Linked DNA regions of Homo sapiens: region 1 is linked to region 2. The links come from fine-mapping of genetic effects on gene expression. A gene starts in region 2. The other region holds a variant in brackets. All regions are shown on one strand. Distances are between the middles of the regions. Region 1 overlaps CFAP251 (cilia and flagella associated protein 251). Region 2 holds the start of CFAP251 (cilia and flagella associated protein 251).

Evidence for each region.
Region 1: its variant is fine-mapped to the expression of CFAP251 in esophagus mucosa (GTEx, PIP 0.96).

Annotation. Positions count from the first base shown.
Region 1 is chr12:121,986,873-121,989,784 of GRCh38, forward strand. The region is part of intron 19 of CFAP251 (cilia and flagella associated protein 251); the gene reads left to right. Among named protein-coding and RNA genes, the nearest start is that of BCL7A, 34 kb to the right of the region's middle. The variant A/G (reference allele first, on the strand shown) is at 1,439.
Region 2 is chr12:121,917,350-121,920,261 of GRCh38, forward strand. It overlaps CFAP251 (cilia and flagella associated protein 251), which reads left to right and starts at 1,243. Exons shown (of 22, transcript NM_144668.6): 1 at 1,243-1,346. It overlaps PSMD9 (proteasome 26S subunit, non-ATPase 9), which reads left to right. Exons shown (of 6, transcript NM_002813.7): 6 at 1-948. RefSeq lists a silencer at 1,372-1,521.

The DNA of each region.
Region 1 (2,912 bases), 70 kb after region 2:
GGGAGACCTCGGACATACATTTCTGTACTATTTAAGTTCTCCTAACTATAAACATGCAGCTTGTGTTGCTTTTGTATTCAGAACAAAAACGAGAAAGATAAACAAGCAAATCCCCCCAAAGCCCTGTGTGCTAATCTTCATGGCTAAAGCAGGGTCCCAGCTGGGATGGAGGTCTGTAGCCAAGTGGTTCAGCCTCACCCATAACGAGGGGGGTAATTTGAGCCAAGAAGCACAGGGACAATTTCTGTTCTGATAAAGACCCCGAGGGAATTTGGAAATTTGCACTTTGAAGAGAAGCCCTCAGTATGTTGGGTCTTGCCCTGAAACGTAAATATCAGCAGGCATTTCCATCCTGAAGGTAATAGAAGTGGCCCAGTGTTCTAGGGGAGGCCTTCCTGGCCAACAGAGAGTCCGTGGCCAGGCCCCTGCCCAGCGAGAGGTGGGCTTCCTGCAGAAAGATCAGAGCAAGACAAAACTATTTCTGCTTTTCACATGTAAAGCATTTAAAGAAATAAATCTTGGATTACTATGCAGCCATTAAAAAGAATGCAGGCGATAGAGTCCAGGCCTGGTGGTTCATACCCGTAATCCCAGCAGTTTGGGAGGCTGAGGTGGGCGCATCACCTGAGGTCAGGAGTTCGAGACCACCCTGGCCAACATGGTGAAGCCCTGTCTCTACTAAAAATACAAAAATTAGCCAGGCATGGTGGCGCACACCTGTAATCCCAGCTACTCGGGAGGCTGAGGCAGGAGAATCGCTTGAACCCGGGAGGCGGAGGTTGCAGTGAGCTAAGATGGCACCATTGCACTCCAGCCTGGGCAAGAAAAGCGAGACTCCGTCTCAAAAAAAAAAAAAAAAAAGAATACAGGTAATAGTAATGCATAATACCATTCTGGGAAAGTGAGGCCTAGAGAGAGAAGAAAGATTGTATAGTCACTTAGCTACCGAGGGCACAGCCAGGGTTTGAACCAAGCTGGCTGACCCCCAACTCCAGGTTCTGTTCCTACGTATGTATGAGTTGGTACAAAGAAGGAAGAAAACCCTAAAAATTCTGGCATCCAACACTGGTTATTGCTGCAGGACGGGGAATTTCAGGGCATTTTATTATTATTTTTCTTTATATCTCCATTGTTAGAATTTTTCATAACAAGCATGTTTCACTCTTGACTGGTTTTATGATATAAAAGGGTAGATCACAATGATGGTGGAAGATATATTTTAAAAATATTTTAAATATTTTTAAATATTTTTAAAAATATTTCAAAAATATTAAATTAATGTTCTTAGAATCGAAATGTTGTTACTTGCCATTGCCATGGCTTCTCCATATTATTTATTTTCTTTTCTTAAAAAAAACTTTATTGAGATATACCACATACCACGTAATTCACCTGTTTAGAGGATGCAGTTCATTGGTTTTTAGAATGTCCACCGAGT[A/G]GTGCAGACATCACCACCACGTAATCCTAGAACATGTTTATCATCCCAAAAAGAAACCCCAGACCCATGAGCACTCACTTCCCATTTCTCCTTCAACCACCGATGTGCTTTCTGTCTCTATGGATTGGCCTATCTTGGCATTTCATATAAATGGAGTCATGAAATATGTGGTCTTTTGGGTCCAGCTTCTTTCACTCACTCAGCATCATGTTTTCCAGGTTCATCCAGGTTGTAGCTTGTCTCAGTCCTTCATTCTTTTCTTTATGATTGAGTAACATTCTATTCGTTCATGTAGATATGCCACATTTTATGTATCCATTCACGAACAGATGGACATTTACGTTTTCCCATTTTCTTGGCTATTATGGATAAGGCTGCTGTGAACATTCGTGTGCAAGTTTTTTGTTGTTGTTGGATTTTTTTTTCTTTTTTTTCTCTTTTTTTTTTTTTTGAGATGAAATCTCCCTCTGGCTGGAGTGCAATGGCGCGATCTCGGCTCACTGCAGCCTCTGCCTCCCAAGTTCAAGTGATTCTCCCACCTCAGCCTCCCGAGTACCTGGGACTACAGGTGCCCGCCCCCACGCCCAGCTAATTTTTGTATTTTTAGTAGAGATGGGGTTTCACCATGTTGGCCAGGCTGGTCTTGAACTCCTGACCTCAAATGATCCACCCAACTTGGCCTCCCAAAGTGCTGGGATCCCAGATGTGAGCCACGGTGCCCGGCCCACATCACTTCTTCACTTGAGCTAGGAACCATCTGGGGCTTTAGGGTGCATGAGGCAGGATCAGGATTTTAGAGAGCTGTGGACACAGAATTAGCAAATCCTTGATTGTGGGTTTGGTACAAGGTGCAAGACTTGTCATTCAGCTAGGACTGTCTCTTTCAGACCTTTGAAAACATTCACTGGGAAGGGAAGAGTCCCTGGAGGTGTTTGAGACCTGGGCTCTGATGCAGGGCAGGGTGACAGTCACTCTAAAGGGCCCTGTGAATGGGTGTTGTTCACATGGAGTAGAAGACAGTGGGCAAGAGCACCAGGCCAGGCCTTGGCTGCTGTCACCTGAGACTGCGTCCAGAGGGCAGAACTGTGCATGCATGCCCCACTCCTGGAAAAAGAGGCAGTCGCCATCCAGATCTAGTTCCTGGAGGGAGGTATGGAGCAGTTGGGGTCACAGTGTTGCATGAATCGCAGAGGGGGCGCTCACAGGGGTCTCCAGATGTGGCCATGCAGTGACGCTGCCCAGCCCTTACGCCCCCTCCTCAGCCCACTACTCCCTGCCCCGGGTCAGCGAGGAGATGCAGGGGGTGACCAGGGGAGGGTATGAGTGAAGATGATGAGTGGGAACAAGACACTGTGCCCCATTAGTTGAGAATGTTCTAGAGGGTATTGTGCGTTGGGAAGAGGGCGTGGGGAAGAGGGTGAGTGCTCCCAGTCCTACTGGTCCATGAAACCATTAGAAAAGCAAACCTGCCCCC
Region 2 (2,912 bases):
GTAAACCGCTGAGGTATGGATAGGAACGAGTAGATCAGACCTCTTGAAAATGCTTATTCTTCCTCCCTTTTATTTTTTGTCTCTTTTAAGATGGTAAAATGGTTCTCAGGGATTCCTGCCAATACTTTGAATTATTTTTTCCTCTCCATGGTATCAGTGTTCATTTCCCCAGTTCTTGCACACCGCTTTCTGTTTTGGCAGTTCTGCCAGGCAAGCCCTGTGTTCCTTGGGACTGGTTTTGCTGTGGTTGGATACAGATACCAGCTTGCCTTGATGGGATTGGTATTGCTGTGTGCTTCCAGCCACAGGTTCTCACACTCAATTCCAAAGCCTTCCTATTGGGCGAATTCCCTCAAACTCTATTTGACCTGACAGCCATACGTATTCCCCTCTGGTAGCCACAGACATGCTGTGTTTACCAATGTTTGCTGTTTAAATTGCATGTTCTAATTCCACGTATTTTCCAGTCTCTTTTATAAAGTCTCAGACTATAATAAACACAGCTTGCCCAGTTTATCCTTTCTTTTTTATTTTAAGATGTATGCATATTAATCAATTTACCATCACTGGGGCATGGCAGTGTGGGCGGGGAGAATTATTCACATTCTCCTAAAATGACAGCAGCAGAGAGCCTTCTGCCTCAGTGGCTCTGGCTGGTTTCCTGCAGGGGTCCCAGTGGAAACCCGTGTGGCCACCTGTTGCCGTCTTCCATGAGATGTTAGTGGAGAGCCACTTTGACGTGGAATGATCCTAATAGATATAGCCAGACCGGTTTTGCGGAAACGCTTTGTGCTGAGAACCGCAAGCTGGTGCACCCTGTGTCATATCTGCCCCCAGCCAGCTGGAATTGTCTGCAACACGCGGTGCCCGGTGAGGAGGCAGGCAGGACGGTTGTGTGCTGCATCCATGAGACCTGGAAATTCAGTTTGCTTTTGGAAAAGAGCATTGTATCCGAGTTCATACTTCTCCACCCCATCTTGCCAAGGTTGCGGAAAGTAAAAATTGGCAGTATTGGCCGCTGCAGCTTCTTAGGGGACGGGACCATGTGAAAAGGTGGGATCGTGCGAGCGGAGGAAGGACAGAAAAGCGAGGAAAGTCTATGCCGCCAGCGACCGGCAGGAGGCACGTCGGGCACGCTCGTCACCGTTTCCTGGCACGTGACCACCGCCCTGCCCTGTCGCTTTAGGGCCTGTCGCTTCCGGCGGTGGCGGTTGCCATGGGGACGGAGCTTGGGTGGCAACCAGAACTAGGGAGCTGGTGGAGAAGGTGGCGGCCGCTGGAAGGAGGCCCGGGAGGTGGCTGAGGGGTCCAGGCGGCGGGACGACTCTGGCCTTTTGAAGACCGGGGTGGGTGCTCTCTGTAAGTCCGGGGCGGAGGCCACGCGGCCCTGGCGAGGGGGCCCCCGACCTGGCGGGGTCTGGTGCCCCTTGGGGGGCGCTCACCCGACCTGGCCCTTGTGGGGCCTGGGGCGGCCCCAGGGAGACCTGAGTTGGAGGCAGAGGCCGCACCTGGGCTTTAATCCCCTCGCAGAGCCACGCACCTGGCACCCCTGCCCCAAACCCCTGCGGCTCGAACCCGGCTGTCCAGACGCGCCGGCGAAGTTGGGCTCAGTCAAAAGAGGCTCGGTGGTGAGAGCCCTAGACTTGATTCAGAGCAGTGATTTTTCAGCTGGAGAAACTAAGTGCCAGAGAAATCTCGTTCTTACTAGCGGTGTCATCTTGAATAAGTCACTTCACCTCTCAGAGCCTCAAACTCATTTATCCATTCATTATTTATTTATTATTATTATTATTATTTTTTTTTTACCAGAGATGAATTTGAGGAGCTGATACATTTAGTGCTGAGAAAGAAATTAAGAAATAGAAATACCTTTTCTACTCTGTACTCTCTGGGACTTTATTTTCAAAGTGTTGAGTTCTCTTATTCTAATGTCACTGAAAATGTAGGGATTTTTTTTGTTCGGGGTCCAACTCTTTAGGGATAAAGTATCCATCCTTATTGTTTTCCTAGTTCAAACTCTTGTTTGTTGTAAGGAATAAATGGAGAATATGCCAGAAGGCTTTCAAACTGTTCATTTCTTTGCACATTAGGGTTGCTTTTCTCTCAAATAATAACAACTGCTACCATTTTTTCAAGCTGTATGTGCCAGAATTGTGATGAGCATTTTATATATGTTATCACTTCTCTACAACAACCCTAGAATTTAGGATTATTCTTTTCATTTTGCCCATGAGAAAATGCAGACTCTGAGGGGTAAAGTGACTTGCCCAAGGTCACAGAGCAAGTACGTGGTGGAAATGGGATTCAATGCTAGGACAAGCTGACAGCAAGGCCCTTGCTTTTAACCACTAGGCTACCCTGCTTCTTCTCGTATTCCTGTTTCTAGAATTGTTGCTAATATGTGGGTTATGCATTTTGCTGCCTGTGGGAATATAAATATATTTTAAATGAGTAAAAAGGCTACAAGGTGTTTATTCCCAGAAAGTTGACAGGCCCTGGATCAGTATTTTTAAGATCTGGGCCACAAATACATATACTTTAAGATTTCCCAGCTGCGCGTGATGGCTCACGCCTGTAATCCCAGCACTTTGGGAAGCCAAGGCGGGCGGATCACTTGAGGTCAGGAGTTTAAGACCAGACTGGCCAAAATGGTGAAACCCTGCCTCCATTGAAAAAATACAAAAATTAGCTGGGTGTGGTGGCAGACGCCTGTAATCCCAGCTGCTCGGGAGGCTGAGGCAGGAGAATAGCTTGAACCCTGGAGGCAGTAATTGCAGTGAGCCAAGATCGTGCCACTGCACTCCAGCCTGGGCAACAAGAACAAAACTCTGTCTCAAGAGAAAAAAAAAAAAAAGGTTTCCCACAAATGTGACTTTTTTTTTTTTTTTTTTTTTTTGAGAGAGGGTCTCGCT